Linked DNA regions of Homo sapiens. The main gene of each other region encodes a partner of the protein of the gene in region 3 in a complex. Each region holds a gene or a part of one and is shown on either strand. Other genes may lie near its edges. The genes, in order: PRPF8, SNRNP40 and AAR2.

Region 1 (7,105 bases), on a different chromosome or scaffold from region 3:
TCCCGAGGCGGAGTTGTGCTCAGTCACCCAGGCTGAGAGTGCACTGGCGCAATCTCAGCTCACTGCAACCTCCACTTCCCGGGTTCAAGTGATTCTCCTGCCTCAGCCTCCCAAGTAGCTGGGATTACAGGCGCCCACCACCACACCCAACTAATTTTTGTATTTTTTTAAGTAGAGACGGGGTTTCACCATGTTGGCCAGACTGGTCTCGAACTCCTGACCTCGTGATCTGCCCGCCTCAGCCTCCCAAAGTGCTGGGATTACAGGCATGAGCCACCGCACCCAGCCTCCTCCTCAGCAAATTCTGAGTCAGTGGGCCAGACAAGCACTCCACACACAATTCCATGCTACTGCGCCTGAGACGCACCTTATAGTTGATGACGACGTTGTTCTTGGCTGTCATGTAGTCGGCTATGTTGTGGTCCACGATGAGGCGCAGCAGCCTGTTGAGCAGAGTCAAGTCGATCTTCTCATACATCTTCTCAAAGCGGGATTCCAGCATGACATTGCACTCGCCTTCACTCGTCTCCCACACGTCCTGCAGGTTATTGATGCCTGAGGAGTAGCAAGGCAGGTCTCCAGCAGGTTAGAAATCCTCTTGCAAGACTAGCCCCACAGGAACTATCATTACCTTCCATAACCAATCCCACTATGATTCCACGTATTCATTTGGATTGCTTTGACTATGGGCTTTTCCTCAGTTTAACACGAACACTACTTCCCTTTACTACCACGCATCAAGAGAGTAAACCAATCATGCTACCCAGATGAGATTTTTGACGTAGAACTAAATTCCTGCCCCGTTCCTCACAGGGCGATCTCATGAAAGTTCTACCTTGACACCACTTGTAAACAAGCAGCGGAGGTGGTTCTGTGTCTGCAGGCTTAATCCAGGGTGGGAACAGGCGGCGCTTGTCGGCTTCATACCACAGGTACTGGTCCAGGTAAGCATCAGTTATCTTCTCCAGGGGCTCAACATCATATACTGGAACGAGGTGGCTATACAGATCCATGAACTCAATGCCCACCTGTGGGACAAGGAGGCTGGTTCACACCAATCCACCAACTGCTACCTTTGGTAGAACCAAAGGCAACTGCTACCTTTGGTAGAACCAAAAAGAAAACTTGGGAGGCCTCACTCACCTCTTTGAAGGCTCTCTGTGTGAGGAGGTGACGCTTGATGCGGGACAGCGCCTCGTGGGGGTTATCGTAGGCCTGCTCGATCAGACCTAGCTCCTCCCTCTGAGACTGGTTCAACCGAGACTTCACACTGACAAAAGCAATGGGAAGGGTGAATGGGAAAACTAGGAGGAAGTAAAACCAGGAAAGACTGGGGCTACACCTTCTTTCTTTGGACTCTGAGGATGACGCCATTCCCTGCTGTCACCTTCCCAGCAGGAACCTATCTACCCTACTACTCACCTATAAGCTTCCTTGAGCCGCTCCAATGCCAAGATGAGCAACTTGGTGTCATGCTTATAGGAGAGTGGGGGGAATGGGATGGGTGAAAACCTGCGGCTTTCCAACCAATGCACTGTGGTGGTATATACTGCCACTGCTTCCTCCGCTGTGATGTAAGGCCCGTCCTGTAAGGTGGACATGAAATTAGCCTCCCGCTACAGCCCGATCCTGCCAGAACAAGGTTCAGTCACAACTCTACAGTCCTCCCTCTTGCCCACTCCCCCACCACTCACACCCAGCCCAGCCTACTCTGCCCAACCTTCAGGTAGTTGTGCTGCCGCTCCTGTTCTGCCTTCAGATAGAGCCGGGTGAGGCGGCCCAGATTCTTTTTACAAACAGTCTTGTCCACAGTGGCCCCTCGGCGGATCCGTTCTCGGTTGTAGTGGGCAGTGTTGGTCCACCAGTCAGCCTTGGCCTTCACGTATCGAAGGATCATATTCTCTATGGGCGTCGGCAGCCCAGGGACCTAAAAGTCCAAAAAGCACAATCAAGCCAGGATCCAGCCAGGCACTGTGGCACACATCTGTAGTCCCGGCTACTCAGGAGGCTAAGGAGGATCGCTTGAGCTCAGGAGCTTGAGGCCAGCCTAAGCAACATGGTGCTTCTTTTCCCTGTCTAAAAGGGAAAAGAAAAGAGATTGGAGCCAGATAGCCCCCTAATGATTCCCGAAGTGGTAATCCTACCCTAAAGACGGATGTTTACGCCTCCAAGGAAATAAAGAGACACCCACCTTCCAGGGAATGTTGGCTTTCCAGCAGCGCCAGGCTTCACTGAGGTGCTGCAGGATTGTCCGGGCCTTGTTCTGCTTGATCCCCTCAGGCATCATGTCCAGAATATCATGCATCACAGCTGCCCGCAGCTCAAGGTCAAAATGTGACTCCACTCGCTGCTTTGTTACTGTCTTTGCCACCCCCTTTGAGTGTCGACCTGGAAGTAGAGTGTCCCAAGGGGATTACAAGGAAGATTCCTTGCTTTCAATAAGGGTCTCTACCTTCATGCTCCTCACTCATTATGGTTATTAATAAAATTAGGTATTAACAAAGCGTCCCTGTGCCCAGCATATGCAAAAAGACGAGCTACCTTAAACATTCACAACTATGCTTCTGAGGAATTTCCACTCCTGCAAATGCATGACTGCCTCTCAAGGCCCCAGAAGGAAGCCCAAGAAATAGAATACTAGGTCAGACTCATTTCAGAACTGGACCTAAAGGCAATCCAGTAGGAAGAGTGCTCATACAAGAGCAGGGAACAGACTCAAACAGGGGCAGGTACTTTTGAAGCAATAACAGGAGAAGTTGGACACAGAGAAAACCACTCACCTTCAAACTGCCGGGCCAGGAGGTTGCCAAGCCATCGCTCTAATAAAGGGGTAATGCCACGCATGAAAAAGAGCCAGACTCGCCAACCGGCAGCCCAGAAGCCACAGCCAGGACCCTTCCCTACAGGGCCCTACGATCCCAAGCAGAAGTTAAGAATACAAGTTAGCAATGCATTTAAACAACAATAGAAACCTGGGCAGAGGTGGGGCATATATGTATAATATACATACAGAGGAATGTAGGTATGGCAGTAGAGGGGTAAAAAGAAAAAAAAACTCTGGGACCTCAACATCTAAAACAAAAGGGTAAATGAGAAACCTTAAGGCAAAAACCAGGAACTAAGATCGCCCATGTGAATTTAAAGGAGCAGTAAGGACACAGTCATAGCTGCTCTCCAAATAGGTCCCTGGAAAGAGCCCTGTCTAAATGTATACATGAAAAAAGATCTGAGAAAGTTAAGTCCAGTGAGGCTGGGCACGGTGACTCACGCTGGTAATCCCAGTACTTTGGGAGGCCGAGGAGTGTGGATCACCTGAGGTCAGGAGTTCAAGACCAGCCTGGCCAATACAGTGAAACCCCATCTCTACTAAAATTTCAAAAACTAGCCAGGCATGGTGGTGCGCGCCTGTAGTCCCAGCTACTTGGGAGGCTGAAGCAGGAGAATCACTTCAACCCGGGAGGCGGAGGCTGTGGTGAGCCAAGATCGTGCCATTGTACTCCAGCTGGGGCAACAGAGAAAGACTCAGTTTCAAAACAAAACAAAAAAAAAATTGCCAGGCGTGGTGGCGGGCACCTGTAATCCCAGCTACTCGGGAGGCTGAGGCAGGAGAATTGCTTGAACTCAGGAGGCGGAGGTTGCAGTGAGCCAAGATCGTGCCATTGCACACCAGCCCAAGAGACAAGAGTAAGACTCTGTCTCAAAAAAAAGAAAGTCAGTAAAGTCAAGGTCTCACCGTGTTGAAACGATAATAGATGAGATGCTTCAGGTCCTTGCACATGCGAATCTGTCGCATCAGCTTGTATTTGTATCGATACATGCCCGTCAACTGCCCAACATGGGCAAATATATACTGCAATCCATCTGCCAGCTGCAATACAATTGCCCCATCAGACCTGGAGCTTAAACCAGCTCCACGGTCAGCACAGGCTTCCTCCAGCGTCCTCACCCAGGCAGGGGTTGGGAATACCTAACCTTACCTGGAAGGCATCCACATTGCCCAGCCGATACTGCACGTGACTATCCACCACCAGCTTAGTCAAACGCAGAACTTCCCGACACAGGTGGAAAGCATTCCCAAAACGAGATTTCTTTCTTTCCTGGAGAAGATGCAAAAAACAGACAGAACGTGAATGAGCAATGGACCCAACTGATGTATGCCTTCATCAGTAACCAGAGGAAAACAACTGTCCGTCCTTGAAGCCCAGGAGGCCCCTAGGGTCCAATGCAGGCACCTTGGTGGTGAGCGTTTTCACAGGCTTGAGGTTGAAGTTGTAGTCCAGGTGCAGGTAGTTGAGGTTTTTGCGGTGAATGAGAAGGTTGAGCATGTTGTAGCCCTGGCGGCAAACCTGGAGCCCAACCTCCACCCAGTCCAGCTTTGTGGACTGAAAGAATTTGGTGGCTTTGAAGGAGCGGAACAAATACCTGAGGTGGGAACATGGAGAGTAAGAGTCAGCCTACTGATATCTCTGGAACAGAAGTCTGCGCAGGGCCCCTGGGGCACCTTACCTCTTCTTTTGAGCCTTAGGGGGCCGATGCTTCAGGGCATTCAGCACATAGTACTTAAGCAGCTTCTGGTAGGAGACCCTCACTTTCACAGGCTGCCCGGCAGGACAATGCTCCCGATACCTGGAAAAATAAGCCCACCAGAGTTTGGCCATCTCTTCTTCCAGACACTCTGCTAAAGGCTGCAAGCCTTGGGTTGTCTACCATTTTTATGGGAAAAAAAAAAAAAGAATTTAAAAAAAAGGCTACATGCCCACCTAGTTGGAGTCTTTTCTCCTACACATCCACTATCATTCCCCCTGCCACAGGGAAAAACCTTACCAGTTCTTGACAAGGGGTATGTCCAGGGCCCGACGGGTGCGACCAGAGCGTAGGTTGAAGGGCCGCGGGGCCCAGAGCAGGGCAATGCCATTGGCTGTATTGTCTGTATAGAGGGGTGTGTCCTTCAGGAAGGGCTCCACAAACTCCGGGAGCTCAAATTCCTCATCATCATCCGGCAATGGTTCCTGGCTCTGAAAAAGGAATCCCTCTAAGGGTTTAGCTCCTGCTGAACTAGGCACAGACTTAAGATGAGGGAAATTCTCTGGGGCCAAGCACAAAGCCTGTATCTGCTATGGAAACTGGGCTGTCTGACAAAAGCAGCCCTGAAGTGCCAGCACAAAGGAAACCAAGACAGCAAAGAACAAGACAGGGCCACCAGGAAAGCAAGCGTCACTTCTCACACCTCAACTGGCTGACCACCAGAAAGCCTCCCAATGGAGCCCCAACATCACAGGAGGTCAACATTGCAATCATCTCCCACCCAAGCTCCAAACACTGGGCTTGGACACAACGGAACACAGATGAGCATCAAAAACATTATGGTAAGCTTAAGAAGCCAGTCACTGAAGACTACATAGTGTACGATTCTATTTCATTCTATCATATGAAATGTGTAGAATAGCCAAATCTATAGACAGAAAGTAGATTAGTGGTTGCGTAAGGAAGTTGGGGAGAAATGGCGAGTAACTGCTAAGGGTTTCTTTCTCAAGTAATAAAAATATTCTCAAATTGCATGTCGTGACAGTTGGGACAACTCTGAGAATAAGCTAAAAACCATCAAATTACACACTTTAAATGGATAACTTGTATGGTATGTTAACTACATCTCAATATAAAGGCTAAAACAAACAAACACAATAGAGACAGACCGGGACAGATTATCTAGAGCACCCAAGAAAAGAACCGTAAAGTCCAAAAGGATAATCACAGAAAACAGGATTATACCAATGACATGTTTTAAAGCAAATGCTGAATTCTCATATTCGCTTATAGCTCAAGGGGAACACTTAGCAAGACGGAAAACACATCTCCCTCCACCTGAGCGTTTAGTAACATCAGCCAACCTCACGCATTTCTCCTAGAAGAGCTGAGGGAAAGCATCCCTTCCCTTCCTCACCTTGACTGAGTGCCTATGGGAGATTGGGTTGATCAAAGGGTCAAAGTAGAAAGCTGGCAAGTCAGGATCCTCAGTTTTGATGAATACAACATTGGGAGTATGGTACCTAAAATGAAAGGAAGAGTCAGCCAAAGTTTTCCCGCCCTGGCCCAACCTAAACAGCAGCCTTCTCCTTTCCAAATGTTGTGTTCCAGGTCTCTTACCAGGTGAGGTGGACATGGTGTGGAAGATTGTTGTACAAGTAAGGAAAAGCAATCTTGTACTCAGTGCGGATAGGCTGCCGGATGATAATCTTGTTAATATCATTGAATTCATTCCAGTCTTCATCCCTAGGGTACAACATCAAGAATAAGCAGACTTTTTTTTTTTTGAGACAGGGTCTCACTCTTATCACCCAAGCTGGAATGCAATGGCATGATCATCGTTCACTGCAGCCGTGACCTCCTGGGCTCAAACAATCCTCCCACAGCTCAGCTTCCCAAGTAACTGAGACTACACGAAGCTGTGAGTGTCACCACGCCCAGCTACATTTTTTGGTAAAGATAGGGTTTTGCCATTTTGCCCAGATTGGTCTCAAACTTCTGGGCTCAAGCAATCCTCCTGCCTCAGCTTCCCAAAGTGCTGAGATTACAGCGTGAGCCACTGCACCTGGTGTAAACAGACTAATTTGGAAGTTATATCAGGACTTTAAGGATCAAGATTACGTTTCATTCAACTCAAAATGTCTAAAATCCCTAATCTCTCCAACTCACTGTAGGTTGATGTCTCGAACAAGAGGTTCAAATTTGGGGCCTCCAGGAATGGCCATATTGAGTGCCTTGGACGTAAAGAAGGCCTTCAAATCAAACAGGTAGAAGTAGTTGTCATCCACCAAGTCTGTCAGGAGCTGATTAGCCAGGCGGTAGAGAGTCGACATCATAGGTAGTGTGAACTGCCAGCGCTGGTAAGTGGAGCCATTTACATACCTAGGTAAAAAATGAAAGGCCCACCTCAAGTAAGCAGCTAGACAAACCCATACCACCTACTGATCTCCCAGGACTCCTTCTGCATTTCCAGAACTCCTCCCAGGTGTAGTATCTCCATCTATCACTCACTTCCTGCTGTCCCTCAACGGCTGGTGGTCATAGAACCAGTCCAACACAGGGGCGTCCTCCTCAGGGTCCA
Region 2 (7,105 bases), on a different chromosome or scaffold from region 3:
TTGAAAGAAGTGACGAAGGATTGAAACCCTCACATTTAAAGGACTACCTTTAGGCCGGGCACGGTGGCTCACACCCGTAATCCCAGCACTTTGGGAGGCCGAGGCAGGTGGATCACAAGGTCAGGAGTTCGAGATAAGCCTGCCCAACATGGTGAAACCCTGTCTCTACTAAAAAATACAAAAATTAGCTGGGCATGGTGGCACGTGCCTGTAATCCCAGCTACTCAGGAGGCTGAGGCAGGAGAATTGCTTGAACTGGGACCCAGGAGGCAGAGGTTGCAGTGAGCTGAGATAGCACCACTGCACTCCAGCCTGGGCTACAGAGGAAGACTCTGACTCAAAAAAAAAAAAAAAAAAAAAGGACTACCTTTAGACAAAAGCAAGGATATTCCTTTCTTTTTTTTTTTGGAGATGGAGTCTTGCTCCGTGGCCAGGCTGGAGTGCAGTGGCGTGATCTCAGCTCACCGCAACTTCTGACTCCCAGGTTCAAGTAATCTCCTGCCTTAGCCTCCTGAGTAGCTGGGATTACAGGCACACCACCATCACATCCAGCTAATTTTTGTATTTTCAGTAGAGACGAGGTTTCACCACATTGGCCAGGACGGTCTCGGTCTCCTGACCTTGTGATCCACCCGCCTCGGCCTCCCAAAGTGCAGGGATTTCAGGTGTGAGCCACCACACCTGGCCAAAAGCAAGGATATTTCATCCAAAGTAACAGCAAAGGAAACAATGAGGGATGGAAATACAGTACAACTTCTAGGTAAGGACAACACAGAAAGTTGAGTATCTGACAGTTACTCTTCTTACTATAAAGCAGAAGGTAAGGTCAAAGTCGTTAAGATCCCCAAGGAAGCCAAGAGGAAAGGAAGACAGAAGCTGTGCAGGCCCAAAATAATACATTTCCTGGCACTTGTTATGTCCAGGAATTCTGCTAAGTGCTCTAATGAATCAGGCTCATTTAATCCCCACAATGGTATGTGGTAGATGCTACTGTTTTTTTTTTTTTTTATCATTACCCCCTCACCATTCACACAAGAAAAAGAGGCTTAAAGAAGGTGCTTGAAGTCACAAAACTAGAAAATGGTGAAACTGGGATTAGAACCCAAGTCAATTACTTGAAAGTTTGAGCTACACTCTACTGCCATATGGTCTATTGCCTCTTTAATATCATTACCTTCTCTCATTCTTAGAGAAACTTAGAAAACTCTCTTTCCATAGTGTCAAAAAGAAAAACACAGTGAGAGATGAGGATACAGAATCACAAACTGATTCACTGCTCTCTTTAAACCAAGATGGTTAAAAAAAGATTTTGAATGTCTTTAAAAGGAAATGCACTCTTTATTTTTTACATAGTCCCCCTACAGAGACTTCACACTTCACATTAAGTGCCTGGTCCCTGACAGCATTTATAAGATCTGCAATGCAAACTTTAATTTAGGAAGTCAATGAAGACAGGAGAAAAAGAAAATAAGTTCCAAGTTACTATTTTCCTTTCAGTTGGTATTAAGTGCAAAGCTACCACAATCTCAGAAGTTTGAAAAAATTCGTTTCTAAGTGCAGATAGATGAAATGGAAATATATCATAAACATCAAACATACCTTGATATCATTGTCTATTCCACCAGAAATAATCTGATCACTTGTGTCATTGAAGGTCACAGCTAACACCTGGTACGTGTTCTGAAATGTCTGGATGGCTGCTTTCTTCCGGATGTCCCAAAGCTGAAGCAAAGGACAAGACAGTCTATCAGCAACATCATTCTAAGAAGCAATTGCACAGTACAAATATCCCTTAAGTACGAGGACTTTGTGGACATGAACACATCTATAATTGGGATCCTATATCACTAACTCCTGGATATCCTAATAACACACATGGTAAGCAGTGTGCTCAATTTTGCCAAGACATTTGAAGGCTGGTGAAACAAAACTTCGGTTATATTTTCAGACTTCTTTGTTGAAGTGAACAGAGTTAAATCAACATACTCTTAGAATGGAATTCCCCTAACTACTTAGTTCATATATTTTTTAGAACAACAAGGATATCAGACAATTTTTTCAAACCGTAGAGACTAATTCATTAGTAGGCTGCAACCCACATTTAAAAAAATAGAGGGTATGTCAGTGAAAATAGTATAATAAACAATGACAAAAGCTTGTCCCTCCACGAAAGCAGCAAATTAACCAGCAAAATCTGTCAGAATCAACTGTTGGAACTCTCAAAACTAATCAAAAGTTTATAGTAACCCGGCAAACCCTTAATGAGGAAAAAGGAAACAAAAAACTCCCTGAGTCCCAGTAAAAGGGCTTTGTAGTGTTTTAACTTGTGCTGGCTCTGTCTCCTGCTCAGCAACAGCTTTGAAGATAACCCATATTCCCAGTATGGTTTCCTAGTACTGAGGAAGCAAAGGGGGCCTATTTCTTATTGTCAAAGAATAAACAATAAAAATTGTTTATTTTTACCTGTCTGGTGGCTCTCTGAAGGATGAGCCCAAAGGACTTACATTTATTTTGCCTAACTTGGAACTTCCCTTGAAAACATTTAAAGGAAAGGACATTATTAGCCTCTGGTTCCTGGGGGCAAGGAAAAACAGTTGGGGCAAAAATACAAACCAAAAACCTTGGGAGGAAGGGCTGGGGAAGGAGACAATTTGGGGAATAAGAGCTTCGAAAAGCACCGACATATTCCTGGCTATCTATCTATCTATGTATCTATCTATCTATCTATCTATCTATCTATCTATCTATCTAATCTGGGGACACACTCTCCCTCTGTCGCCTAGGCTATCTATCTATCTATCTATCTATCTATCTATCTATCTATCTATCTATCTATCTATCTTTCTATCATCTATATCTATCTATCTATGTATCTATGTGTCTATCTATCTATCTAATCTCTATCTATCTATCTATCTAGGGACAGACTCTCCCTCTGTCACCCAGGCCGGAGTGCGGTGGTGCGATCTTGGCTCACTGCAACCTCCACCTCACGGGCTCAAGCAATTCTCATGTCTCAGCCTCCCGAGTAGGTGGGATTACAGGCGTGTGCCACTATGCCCAGCTAATTTTTGTATTTTTAGTAGAGACAGGGTTTCGCCACGTTGACCAGGCTGGTCTCAAACTCCTGGCCTCAAGTGATCTGTCTGCCTCACCCTCCCAAAGTGCTAAGATTACAGGCATGAGCCACCACGCCTGGCCCATTCCTGGCAATCTAGACCACTTGCATGTCCAGGGCTGGGCACATACTTAGAAAAGATCTGAGAAGGCCGTAAGCTCTCTGGTTCACCTTCAGGCTCTGCACAAGCAGGAAGTGAAAGCTAAGGAGAGATGTAAACTGCATGGCAAGGAGTTGAAGGCAGGCTCCAACATACAAAAAGACAATCTGCAAAGACTGGGAGAATTTTTGTTCTTGTTGTTGTAGGTAATTTAGGAAACTTGTGTCATTCACTAGCTGACCACTAAGCTAACGAAAAAAAGAATTCAGTGGTCACACAGGACAAAGAATACAAACTTTACAAAATTAGTTCAAAAATTCACTAAACAGGCCGGGCATGGTGGCTTACACCTGTAATCCCAGCATTTTGGGAGGCCGAGGTGGATGGATCACTTGAGGTCAGGAGTTCAAGACCAGCGTGGCTAACATGGTAAAACCTTGTTTCTACTAAAAATACAAAAATTAGCTGGTCATGGTGGTGTGCCCCTGTAACCCCAGCTACTCAGGAAGCTGAGGTGCAAGAATCACTTGAACCCGGGGAGTGGAGGTTGCAGTGAGCCAAGATCGCACTACTGCACTCCAGCCTGGGCTACAGAGCGAGACTTCGTCTCAAAAACCAACCAACCAACCACTCTCACCTTACCCCAACCCACAGAAAGTCACTAAACAAACAACTACAATAAGCAGCTCTGGGGACCTAATTTCCAGAGTCACCACGCTATAATATTTAAATGCCTAGTTTTCAACAAAATATAAGGCATGCAAAGAAGCAAGTAACTATGGTCCATATAGAAGGAAAAAGTAGTCTTCTCAACAAATTGTGCTAAGACAACTGGCTAACCACATGCCAAAGAATGAAGGTAAGCCCCTGCCTAACATGATACACAAAAATTAATTCAACATGGATCAAGGACCTAAATGTAAGAGCTAAAACTATAAAATTCTTAGAGGGCCAGGTATGGTGGCTCATGCCTGTAACCCCAGCACTTTCGGAGGCCGAGGCCAGGAGGATGGCTTTAGCCCAGAGTTAGCGACCAGCCTGAGCAACATGGTGATTCCTCATCTCTACAAAATAAAAACAAAAAGTTGGGTGTGGTGGTATATGCCTATAGTCCCAGCTACTTGGGAGGCTGAGATGGGAGGATCGCTTGGGCCAGAGAGGTTGAGGCTGCAGTGAGCCGTGATTGCGGATCTGTACTCCAGCCTGGGTGAGAGTGGCGGCATCTCGGCTCACTGCAACCTCTGCTTCCGTGTTCCAGCAATTCTCCTGCTTTAGCCTCCTGGATAGCTGGGATTACAGGCATGCGCCACCACGCCCAGCTAATTTTTCTATTTTTAGAAGAGACGGGGGTTTCACCATGTTGGCCAGGCTGGTCTCGAACTCCTGACCTCAGGTGATCCACCCACCTTGGCCTCCCAAAGTGGTGGGATTACAGGCGTGAGCCACTGCACCCGGCCAAGACCCCATCTCTTAAACAAACAAACCCTTATAGCTCTACTTTTTTAAAGCGTGGATAACACAGAGAGGGCTCAGAGATGTTTCAATAAATGAATGACACACTTGAGAAGATGAACCACAAGTAAATGATTTAAAAGTATGGGTCGTTTCATTCAGAAGAAAGAGACTTTGGGATGACTGTTCCAAGTTTTAAAGGGCTGGCATCAAAAAGAAAGGAATCAGCCATGGAACTTTAGGGAAGGTCATAGGCTTAACTTCAATCCTGTAGTCAACAAGGAGAGTCTGAGTAGGATCTGTGCCAAGATGCCTCTTCCTCCCAATTCTCATGGTTTAGGATGAAAAGTAGTTTCTTCTTTGTTCATGTAAATACGAACTAAAAATTAGTTCATTACTCAGATAAATGGTCTAAAAAGAACGCTTCACTCCTCTCCTACATGCCCAACATCTCCTACTCCCCCAACTCCTGTGGTTACAGAATCAAGTCCAAACTTCTTAACCTGGAATTCAAGGCCTTAATAATTTAGATCCTATATATTTTATAAACTGTACTATAATCTTTGTCTCAATAGATACTTCACTCAGGTCAAATCTATCTTTGTCTTTCTCCTAAAAGTCATGGTAGTCAAAGTTTGTTTAAAATAATTTAGAATTTTAGTTCCAGATAACTACCACTTTTAATAATTATTTTACTTTGAAGCAATCATAAATTTATAGAAAACTTGGAAGTAAAAAGAACACTTTTTTTGGTCTAAATCATTTGAGAGTAAGTTGCTTACCCAATGCCTTATCACCTTTTTTTTTTTTTTGAGATGGGAGTCTCACTCTGTCTGTTGCTCATTCTGGAGTGCAGTGGCGTGATCTCCGCTCACTGCAACCTCCACCTCCCGGGTTCAAGCAATTCTTCCTCAGCCTCCTGAGTAGCTGGTATTACAGGCATCTGCCACCATGCCCGGCTTTTTTGTATTTTTAGTAGAGACAGGGTTTCTTCAAGTTGGCCAGGCTGGTTTCAAACTCCCGACCTCAAGTGATCCACCTGCCTAGGCCTCCCAAAGTGCTAGGATTACAGGCATAAGCCACTGCACCTGGCCCCTTATCACTCCTAAATAGTGTCTGTCCTACAAAGATGTTCTCCTACATCATCTCAACATAACCATCAAAATCAAGAAATACAGATACACTATCACCATTTTATCCTCAAATCCCACTCAAGTTTTACCAGTTATCCCAAATGTCTTATTGCACAAGGATTCAGTCTGGAATCATATGTTAAATTTAGACTCCAGTCTGCAAGACTCTCTCAAACTTTCCTTGAGTTTTATGAACTCAACACTTCTGAAAGTTACAGGTCATCATCCCCAATTTAGGTTTGTCTTATGTTTCCTCTTGATTAGATTTAAGTTATACATCTTTGGTAGGAATATCACAGAAATGATGCTGCATCTTTGTTGTATCCTAGCAAATGGTTCATGATTTTGTCTTGTCCCATTACTAATTAGGTCGATTTGATAATTTAGTTAGGATGTTCTTTTGACAAAATAAGCCTTGACAAGTACAAGGCTTATCTTGTACTTTCACTGCCCCTGGGCTGAAATAGGAGCCCTGGTTCCTTTTAATGGAAAACAGTACCTGTGCAGTAAGGGGTGCTATTGCTATTGGGGTCTTGTTGCTCCTAAACCTTTTCAGTGGACAGTCAGGCAATATATGTACATTTAGGTACACACACACACACACTCACACATTTATGTCTATTTTTTTCTATATGTTTCTATATTGAATATTGTGAGTTCACACTTATACCTCACACAAGATTCATTTTAGTCTTCTCTTTTGTACTGGTAACTCTGTTCTTGGACAGAGAAATCAGCCTCCCATTAAATTCAATATATTCACTTATTTGATTATGCTTCCTGCATGCAACCAGTTTCCCATATTCTCTTCCACCCTTCCCTACTTGAATTGTGATTCCCATTCTTGGTTGAAGCCATGTGTGACTCTTCCTTAACCAACTTGGGTCATTCCTCTGTGTGAACACCCTCATCACTCTGCTACGGCTCTTTTCCAGTCTGCACTTCTCCAAGCATGCAGTCATCATCTTGCTCAGTCTCAGACTCCCTACACCAAATCATTTCTACCCTGTGTGGATGCCCTCAGTTCAGGCTTTGACATCCACATTCTCCCCGTACTGCTTCACGTACAGGCGACCCTTTCACCCCATTAGGGCACTGTTGGGCTGCTGCCCCTCCCTCACCCTCAAATTCCCCACACTGGTTACCTACCCTGTGTTGTATGGATGCCTTCCTCACTCTCTGACTACTCCCTACAATGTACTGCCCTGCCCAGTGTGGATGCTCTCCTTACCACACTTGTGCTCTGACACTCTACTCTGGGCCACCTTGGCCCATCTCTAACTAGAGCACCTTCCCTGCTTT
Region 3 (8,105 bases):
GAAAAGTGACATGCTCATGGTCATACCAGGACCCAAATTAGAATCTGGATACCCTGCCTGCAGGCCAGTGTTCTGTCCACCGTCCATTCTTAATATCTTCTCAGATCTCTTTCTCACAACAGAGGGTGAGGGTGGAAAATGCCTGGACAGGTCACTCTAAACTATATGCCTACATCATTTAAAACTACAATTCTGCCAAAAAACTATCCCAAAAGATTTGGAAAGATTAAATCAAGTACATATCCAGTTTCCCATAAGCCTCAGGGAAGGCCCAGAAATGGACAGACGGTAGCAAGTGGAGGCTCAGCATCTAAAGTTTGTTCAGGGTCTAGAGAGCTTTCCTACCACAAATCTCCCCTCTTCTTTCACTCATAAAAAACCTAAACTCCAGGGAGTGAAACAACTTCCCAAAGAGCCCACAATCAGTGGTGGCTCTGGACCATTCATCCAGAATGAATTCAGGTGGTAAAGCTAGCCTAGGAAGAGAAAGCTGGCCAGAAGAGAAAGAGCTTAGTACACTTATTTTACCTACTTCTGAATATCCCAGACATTGCCTCTGGGATATCGGCAAGAATGGTACCAACATGAACAAATGTAAACAAACCATTATGCAACCTTCTAGTCCTAAGATACCTACCTGACTAATTTAACAAATACTCACTGAGTGCCTGCATTGTGCCAGGATCTTTGCCAGGCCCCCAAAAAACATCACAGATTAAGACAGTCACTGCCCTCTAGGCAATTCCAATCTAGCCAAGACGTCAAAATTTCACACACAGAAAAACGAGCTGCCTGTTTAATTGTTTACTTTTTTTTTTTTTTTTTTTGAGACAGGGTCTCGCTCTGTCACCCCAGCTGGAGTGCAGTGGCGTGATCTCGGCTCACTACATCGTCCACCTCCCGGGTTCAAGCAATTCTTGTGCCTCAGCCTCCCAAGCAGCTGAGACTACCGGTGTGTGCCACCACACCTGGCTAAGTTTTGTATTTTTAGTACAGAGAGGGTCTCACCATGTGGCCTAGGCTAGTCTGGAACTCCTGACCTCAGTGATCTGCCCGCCTCGGCCTCCCAAAGTGCTGAGATAACAGGTGTGAGCCACCATGCCTGGCCCTGTTTACCCTTTTTACTTTAAATAAAGCAGTGCAGAAAGGAAGACCAATCCTTTTCCAAAAATAAGAGCACATTTTATCATTGTTACCTCAAAACCACCACAAATGACTCTTACCCTGAATCAGCACTTTGTGTTTCACCAAACTGCAAGTCACAATCCATTAGTGGATTAGGAAATCAATGTGAAGGTCTCAACCAGCATTATTTTTTAAACGAAAATAACAGAATTTTTGAAATATCACAATACATCATGAGTAGTAAAGCTAAGTACTGTTTTCTGGAGCTTTGTGTGTTTGTGTGTATACTTGGTTGTGCCATAAAATGTATTCGTTACTGTAGGTCACAGTCATAAAAGTTTGAAAGACTCTGCTCTAAATAATTCGTATCAACAGGCCGGGCGTGGTGGCTCACGCCTGTAATCACAGCACTTTGGGAGGCCGAGGCGGATGGATAATGAGGTCAGGAGTTTGAGACCAGCCTGGCCAATACTGTGAAACCCCATCTCTACTAAAAATACAAAAAAAATTAGCCGCGCATGGTGGTGTGCGCCAGTAGTCCCAGCTACTTGAGAAGCTGAGGCAGAAGAATTGCTTGAACCTGGGAGGCAGAGGTTGCAGTGAGCTGAGATCACACCACTGCACTCCAGCCTGGGGGTCTGAGCGAATTCCGTCTCAAAATAATAATAATAATAATAATAATAATAATAATAATAATAATAATAATACGTATCATCTTCCTATTTGTAATCCTGAATTCAGAAAGTATTTAATATTTGCTGAATGAACAGATATTCCATTTACAATAACAGCTCATCAATTAGCCATTTTCCCTTGTGACATCTGTGTGCTCCTCCTTGATAATGACGTTTCTTTCATGCTAATTCCACCAGTCTGTAATTCTATTCACTATATCTCCAGCAGCTGGCACAGGGCCTAGCACAGAGGAGATGCTAGGAAAACGTTTATTAAATATGCATAGAACTCTGCAGTCTACCAGCCCCTGTCACTGACAGCTCTGTGAGTTCCTCACAGTCCTGGAACACCTAAAGTCACATCCATCCACTTCTCTCCACCACCTCCCTAATCCAAGCTACCATCGTCCCTCACTCAGAGTGCTTGCTCCTCAACCCATTCTCCATTCAACAGCAGTAACCTTTTCAAAATGCCAATCTAATCACAACACCACCCATGTCAGCTTCTGAGTGGTTTCCCATATGGTTCTTGAAAAACCAGAATTCTTCCTATTACCTACAAAGCCTGCACGGTCTGACTCCTGGCAACCCCTTTAGCTTGTGTCACACAATGGTCCCCCACAAGCTCTCTGTTCCAGCCACAACGGCCTCTTTCAGAACCTGAAATTGGAGGCTGTCTCCATATAGAAAACTCTTCCCTCCCCACTTTGTCAAATCCTTTTTTCTGATCTCAGCTCAATATTCACCTCCTCAGTAAAGGTTCCTTGCCCTGGGGCTAGGTCAGGTCTCCTGTGATATAATCTGGGGTGCCTTGTACCTTTCCGTCTCAATGATCACAACTGCAGTTTTGGATGTTTGATTGAAGGCTGTCATCGCCACGAGACTTGAGTCCTGCTGTATCCCTAGCACAGATTCAACGCTTAGTAAACATTTATTTAATACAAGTATGATATCCATTTTGTAAACGAGAAACAAAGCCTCAGTTCGGGGAAAGACCTTACTGGAAGTCACGCAGAGAGTAGGGCAGAGCCAGGTCGAGTGCAATCAGGGTCTCCGGCCCCCAGGCTCTAAAGTTAAGAAAACCGCGACGTAACTCTGGCGACGGCTTCTCAGGAAGGGCCTCCAGAGACACCAGCGTCCCACAAACAGAGAACCAGCCGCCCCGGCGAGGTGGGCCTAGTTCAAGGCACTCCGTGACTCTGAGCCGAGAAGAGGGGCGGCCCAGCCACACATACACAAGGAATCAGGAAAGGAAAAAGAGGCCAGGAGGCCACACTCACCGCCTCGCCCCACGTTCCGGTACAGCGGAAACGCACCGGAAGTTCTCCAGCTTTGGCGTCTGACTGGAGCGACGGGGGAAGCGGTCCGGCAGAGCCCTGGGTCGCGGGAAGAATGGCCCGTGCCTGCAGGTTCCGCCGGATGCAAGGTTGCCTTTTGTTATTCTTAGTTTCTCGTTTTAGCTTCTGAATTGTGAACAACTTTCATTAACCTATGCATTTTATATCCCCGTCCAGAAACACAGCCACCAGCCATCTTACTTTGGGCTCAAGCAGTCATGGTCACTAAAGCACAGCCAAGGCTTGTACCAGTGGCTACTATTCAGAAGTAGCCAGTCAGGCGCTCGGTCACTGTCTTTGTCAGCCAGTCTCTATCCCGGTCACAGTGTCTCAGCTTCCAGTCACACTCAGCCCTCGGGGAGAGCCTCAGAAACCCAGCCACCAGCCCAGAGAGAACCAGCGTCAGCCTCCGCTGCTGCAGCAGCAGCGGTCGCCACCTCAGTCCCTCTGGCCATTATCACCCCGTGTCCTTCCTGCAGGCCAAGTCCTAACATCTCAGTCAGGCTATCAACGCACTAGGGAAGGAATCTGCCTGTCTTGTTCCTCACTGTTTCCCTGGAACCGAGCACAAAGCCAGGCACAAAAGCTCAGCTGAGTACATATATTATGCATTTAATTAATAATGATGATAATTTGGTATTAATAAATAACTATTTGTGGGTCTAACCCTGCACTATTAATCAGGGTTCCACCAAAGATACAGAGCCAGTAGGAGATCTATATTAAGTGATTTATTGCCAAGAATTGGCTTATGTGATTTTAGGGCAGGCCACTTGGGTATTTCTTTTTTTGAGACGCAATCTCACTCTGTCACCCAGGCTGGAGTGCAATGGCGCTATCTCGGCTCACTGCAACCTCCACCTCCTGGGTTCAAGCCATTCTCCTGCCTCAGCCTCCCAAGTAGCTGGGATTACAGGCGCCCACCACCGTGCCTGGCTAATTTTTGTATTTTTAGTAGAGACGGGGTTTCATCTTGTTGGCCAGGCTGGTTTCGAACTCCTGACCTCAGGTGATCTGCCCACCTTGGCCTCTCAAAGTGCTGGGATTACAGGCATGAGCCACCGTGCCCGGCCCACTTGGGTATTTATAATCCTTGCACTAACCCTTGTAAGGTATGTGTATTCCCAATTTGCAGAAGAGAAAACTGAGGTTCAAAGAGATGTTACACAGCCAGAGAATGGCAGAGCTAGAATGCAAACCAAGGGCTGTCTGTTCTTATCTCTTGTGCTGCTGCTCCTTAGCTTGTCTGTCACATTTCCTCAGTGACAGCTGGACACGCCAATCTGTCTCGGTCAAAATTTATCTCTTAGTGGGTTGCAGACTAGACCGGGCCCTGCAGTCATGGTTAATCACAATGAGCTGCTGCAGGATTAACCAGAGACAGCCTCCATCAGTCACAGTCATGCTTACCAATCTCAGCCTGTCCTGTCAAGTTTCATCTCCTGCATGAAGAAGCTCAGCTCCCTCTCCACCCCTCCCCACTCCCAGTCTTAAGTGCTGAGCTCTATGGTCTGGTCTCAAAGCTCCCTGTTTCAGTTGGGCTCACCGTCTTTTCAGAGACTCCAGGACACTGAACACTGGTTGTAGAAGCTGTAAATGGTGGCCTAGGAGTCCCACCTTGTGGGTCACATGTCCATTTAGATCAGAATTTCTCAACCTTGGCACTATTGACATTTGGGGCCAGATAAGTATTTGTTGTATGTGGCTGTCCTGTGCATTGTAGGATGTTTAGCAGCAACCCTGGCGTCTACCCACTAGAGCTAGTAGCACCCCTCAGTTGTGACAACCATTGCTAAATGTCCCCGGGGCGGGGGTTGGGGGTAAAGGAGGAGGGGTCATTTCCCCACTCTCAATGCAGTTGAAAAACACTAATCTGGGTGAACTTACCTTTGATTATTCGACAAAAGCCGAGTCAGGATGGTCCTTTATGGGAGACAGAAATATGGATCAGGGTGTATGGGGTCCTGAGGAATCATATGAAGACCCATTGTTTGTAAACCAAGTCCTATTCCAGAACCCTAGGGATAACAGATTGCTAAAGGAGACCTATAGGGAAAATTCAGAGAAGGATTCATAATGTTCCTCGCAGCAATTGCCTCTGACAAGAGACAGAAATCTGGAGAAGGCTGAAGAATCACTTTTCACTGCATAGTCTTTGTATCATTTAATGAATTACCTTTCCAAAGAAAATAAGTATTTAGTATTTGAAAGTATACGGAAATGCTCAGGATATATATACGTGTATATAGATATATATGTACATATATATACATATATGTACATATATATATTTTAAAGTATTTACAAAAGTATGTACAAGATGACCAACTCTGGAAAAATACATACACATGGAAAAGACTCGCTGGTGAGATTTGCAGCAATAAAGGTGGGCTGAGGTGAGTTGCTTGGTGGAATAAAAGGAAAGTGTGGTGTGTGCACCTCAGGTGGTCCAAGGGATGAGTTTAGGTTTTAAGTGCATTGTGGTTGTTAATTTTAATATTTTTGCATTTATTTTATGAAGACCTCCTTTCTTGGCAAATAACATAAGCTTTTCATTTGTGGAAGTAATATAGTTTCCTTTTTAAATGCATTTGCTTTTAACGTGAGTCAATTTATTTAGTTAGTTATTTTATTTTATTATTTTTTTGAGACGGAGTCTCTCTCTGTCACCCAGGCTGGAGTGCAGTAGCACGATCTCGGCTCACTGCAACCTCCGCCTCCTGGGTTCAAGCGATTCTCCCGCCTCAGCCTCCCGAGTAGCTGGGATTACAGGTGTGCACCACCACACCCGGCTAATTTTTTGTATTTTTAGTAGAGATGGGATTTCACTATGTGGGCCAGGCTGGTCTTGAACTCCTGACCTCAGGTAATCTGCCTGCCTCAGCCTCTCAAAGTGCTGGGATTACAGGCGTGAGCCACTGCACTTGACCTGAGTCAATTTAAAGAAAAATAAGTGAATAATGGGACAGGTGGTATGAGGATATGGGAACATATATAGAGGTTCTGGGCAAAGGCCGAAGTTGAGGATTGCTGTATTTTTTCCCACTAGGCTCCCATGTAGGGGGGTTACAGGAAGAGAGACTCCAATGTAGGTACTCTTCTTTCAGGAGGAGGGACCATGCTGTTTCTCCGCTCAATAAGCCCCTCCACGTCCTGGGGCCTGTATGCTTACTGTTCCCTCTCCTAGAATGTGCACCAAAGTTCCTCGCCTTTGTTGATTGATCCTTCTTTTCATTCAGCTCACAGATCGCCTCCTCAGGGAGGCCTTACCTGGCCACTGTATTTAAAGTGGTCTCCTTCAGTGACCCTCCTTCCCTTCTCCCGGTGTATTTCCTTCCTAGTGCTGAGTGCTCTGTAACGGACTGTTTGCCTGTGTTGGCATCTGTTTCCTCCACTAGCCTGTGGGTTCATGAAGGGCAGGGACTTTTGTCTTGTTTGTGTTGTGCCTGGAGAGTCACCCAAGGCCTGGACCACCTTGAGTTCCAAATATTTGTTGCATAAACATGTTCTAAGTTGGGATGTCTCCACTTCAGTTTTAGCCCCTCCCACAGTGCCAACTTGTACCAGTGGCCAAAGTCAGAGAGAGACAGTGAGAGAGAGAGAGAGAGAGAGAGAGAGAGAGAGAGAGAGGAGAGGTGCCAAGGAAGTATGGTTCAGCATCAAACACATTTATTTCACTTATATTGAGTATACAAGAACAGAGAGCACACGCATACAGCACGGAGCACTGAGGTGGGGGAGCATGGGGACGAGAAAGGAGAGAAGGGTGTGAGTAAAAAGGAACAGGACAGCATCGCAATTGGTTGTTAAGGTGCTTTTGAAAAAAAAAATTATTTCGAGTGATGTTGCTCATGCAGTTTCAGGCCAGTCTTGGAATGTGCTTGCAGGATTCAAAAACTGAAACAGGTCCTGGTACTTCCTGTACCCTCAGATGGAAAAGATCCAGAGAAAACAAAATAAGAGAAAATGAAGACCCATGAGATAGCAAAGTAGAAAAAGACCCTGGAGAGCATCTGGTTCTTTCTGCTTATTTTGCAAGTCGGGAAACTGAGGCCCAAGAGGGGGAATGGGGATAGCCTGATGTCACATGGTGAGTTAGGAGCTGAGCCAGGATGGTCACCCAGAACTCCTAACCGCCCTCAGGGACTTTTTCCACTATGCTACATGGCCTCCTGGGTGGAGAGGTGGCACAGAGAGGATGAGAAACAAAAAAGAGAAAAGGAAAAGTAGGTTGAAGACAGACAAGACAAACGTCTCTATTCTCTACAAAGAGAAGGATGGGGAGGAAACAGTGCCCTAGATTCTAGCTTTGCAGGTCCCCTCCTCCCTCGTGGCACTGCCTGCATCTCCGTAGAAGGGAGGTCACAGCATCCGCGGGATGGTGATTTCCCCAAACCCTGGTGGCCCATAAACTCCACAAGCTAAGCCTGGTCACTTCACCCCTGCCCCAAAGCCAGGTGCAAAATCCACAACAAGGATCCTCCCTCTGAGGTGTGTTCAGTGTGCTCAGGACTCCTGGTTCCTGCAAAGATGAGTTCCTAGACCGAAGTGGCCCAGAGAGGATGGAGCCACCACTCCAGCTCTTGACCCAGAAAGAGGGGGAACTCTCAAGAAGGGCAGGAAGAAGGTTCTGTGGCTTTTCCACCAGGATTGTAGAAAGAACCTGGTGTATGGAAAGTGTGCTGCTACACTCAGGGGGAGTTGGAGTGGACCCACCGGCCTGCACCAGGGGGAATGCCACTGATTCTGCTGCCCCGCTGAACTTCCCATTTGCCCAGAGAAGCAAATGCTATTCTGATTTCCTGCCCTGCCTCAGGCCAGCACCAGCTAAGCAGCTAAGGTGTATGTCATCACTGACAAGCCAAAGGGACGCATCTAACCTGGGCCGCCTGGGGGCATCCCTGGGCTATGCCCCGATAGGTTGGCGAGAGTGGGGAGATGCTCTCAGATGGGCCAGCCATGGTTGAAA

Evidence for each region.
Region 1: AAR2 (region 3) and PRPF8 share a complex: the UniProt entries of both Homo sapiens proteins name them as parts of the U5 snRNP complex.
Region 2: AAR2 (region 3) and SNRNP40 share a complex: the UniProt entries of both Homo sapiens proteins name them as parts of the U5 snRNP complex.

The regions. Positions count from the first base shown.
Region 1 is NC_000017.11:1,674,785-1,681,889, forward strand, and holds part of PRPF8 (pre-mRNA-processing-splicing factor 8), read right to left. Parts: coding exon 7,036-7,105; intron 6,907-7,035; coding exon 6,694-6,906; intron 6,271-6,693; coding exon 6,145-6,270; intron 6,048-6,144; coding exon 5,942-6,047; intron 5,016-5,941; coding exon 4,825-5,015; intron 4,627-4,824; coding exon 4,507-4,626; intron 4,423-4,506; coding exon 4,233-4,422; intron 4,098-4,232; coding exon 3,978-4,097; intron 3,869-3,977; coding exon 3,734-3,868; intron 2,911-3,733; coding exon 2,781-2,910; intron 2,389-2,780; coding exon 2,192-2,388; intron 1,928-2,191; coding exon 1,721-1,927; intron 1,587-1,720; coding exon 1,423-1,586; intron 1,271-1,422; coding exon 1,144-1,270; intron 1,029-1,143; coding exon 836-1,028; intron 556-835; coding exon 368-555; intron 1-367. UniProt on the Homo sapiens protein: Plays a role in pre-mRNA splicing as core component of precatalytic, catalytic and postcatalytic spliceosomal complexes, both of the predominant U2-type spliceosome and the minor U12-type spliceosome.
Region 2 is NC_000001.11:31,279,775-31,286,879, forward strand, and holds part of SNRNP40 (U5 small nuclear ribonucleoprotein 40 kDa protein), read right to left. Parts: intron 1,723-7,105; coding exon 1,600-1,722; intron 1-1,599. UniProt on the Homo sapiens protein: Required for pre-mRNA splicing as component of the activated spliceosome. Component of the U5 small nuclear ribonucleoprotein (snRNP) complex and the U4/U6-U5 tri-snRNP complex, building blocks of the spliceosome.
Region 3 is NC_000020.11:36,231,478-36,239,582, reverse strand, and holds the start of AAR2 (protein AAR2 homolog), read right to left. Parts: upstream 3,106-8,105; 5' UTR 3,080-3,105; exon of another isoform or gene 2,801-3,079; intron 2,702-2,800; exon of another isoform or gene 2,546-2,701; intron 1-2,545. UniProt on the Homo sapiens protein: Component of the U5 snRNP complex that is required for spliceosome assembly and for pre-mRNA splicing.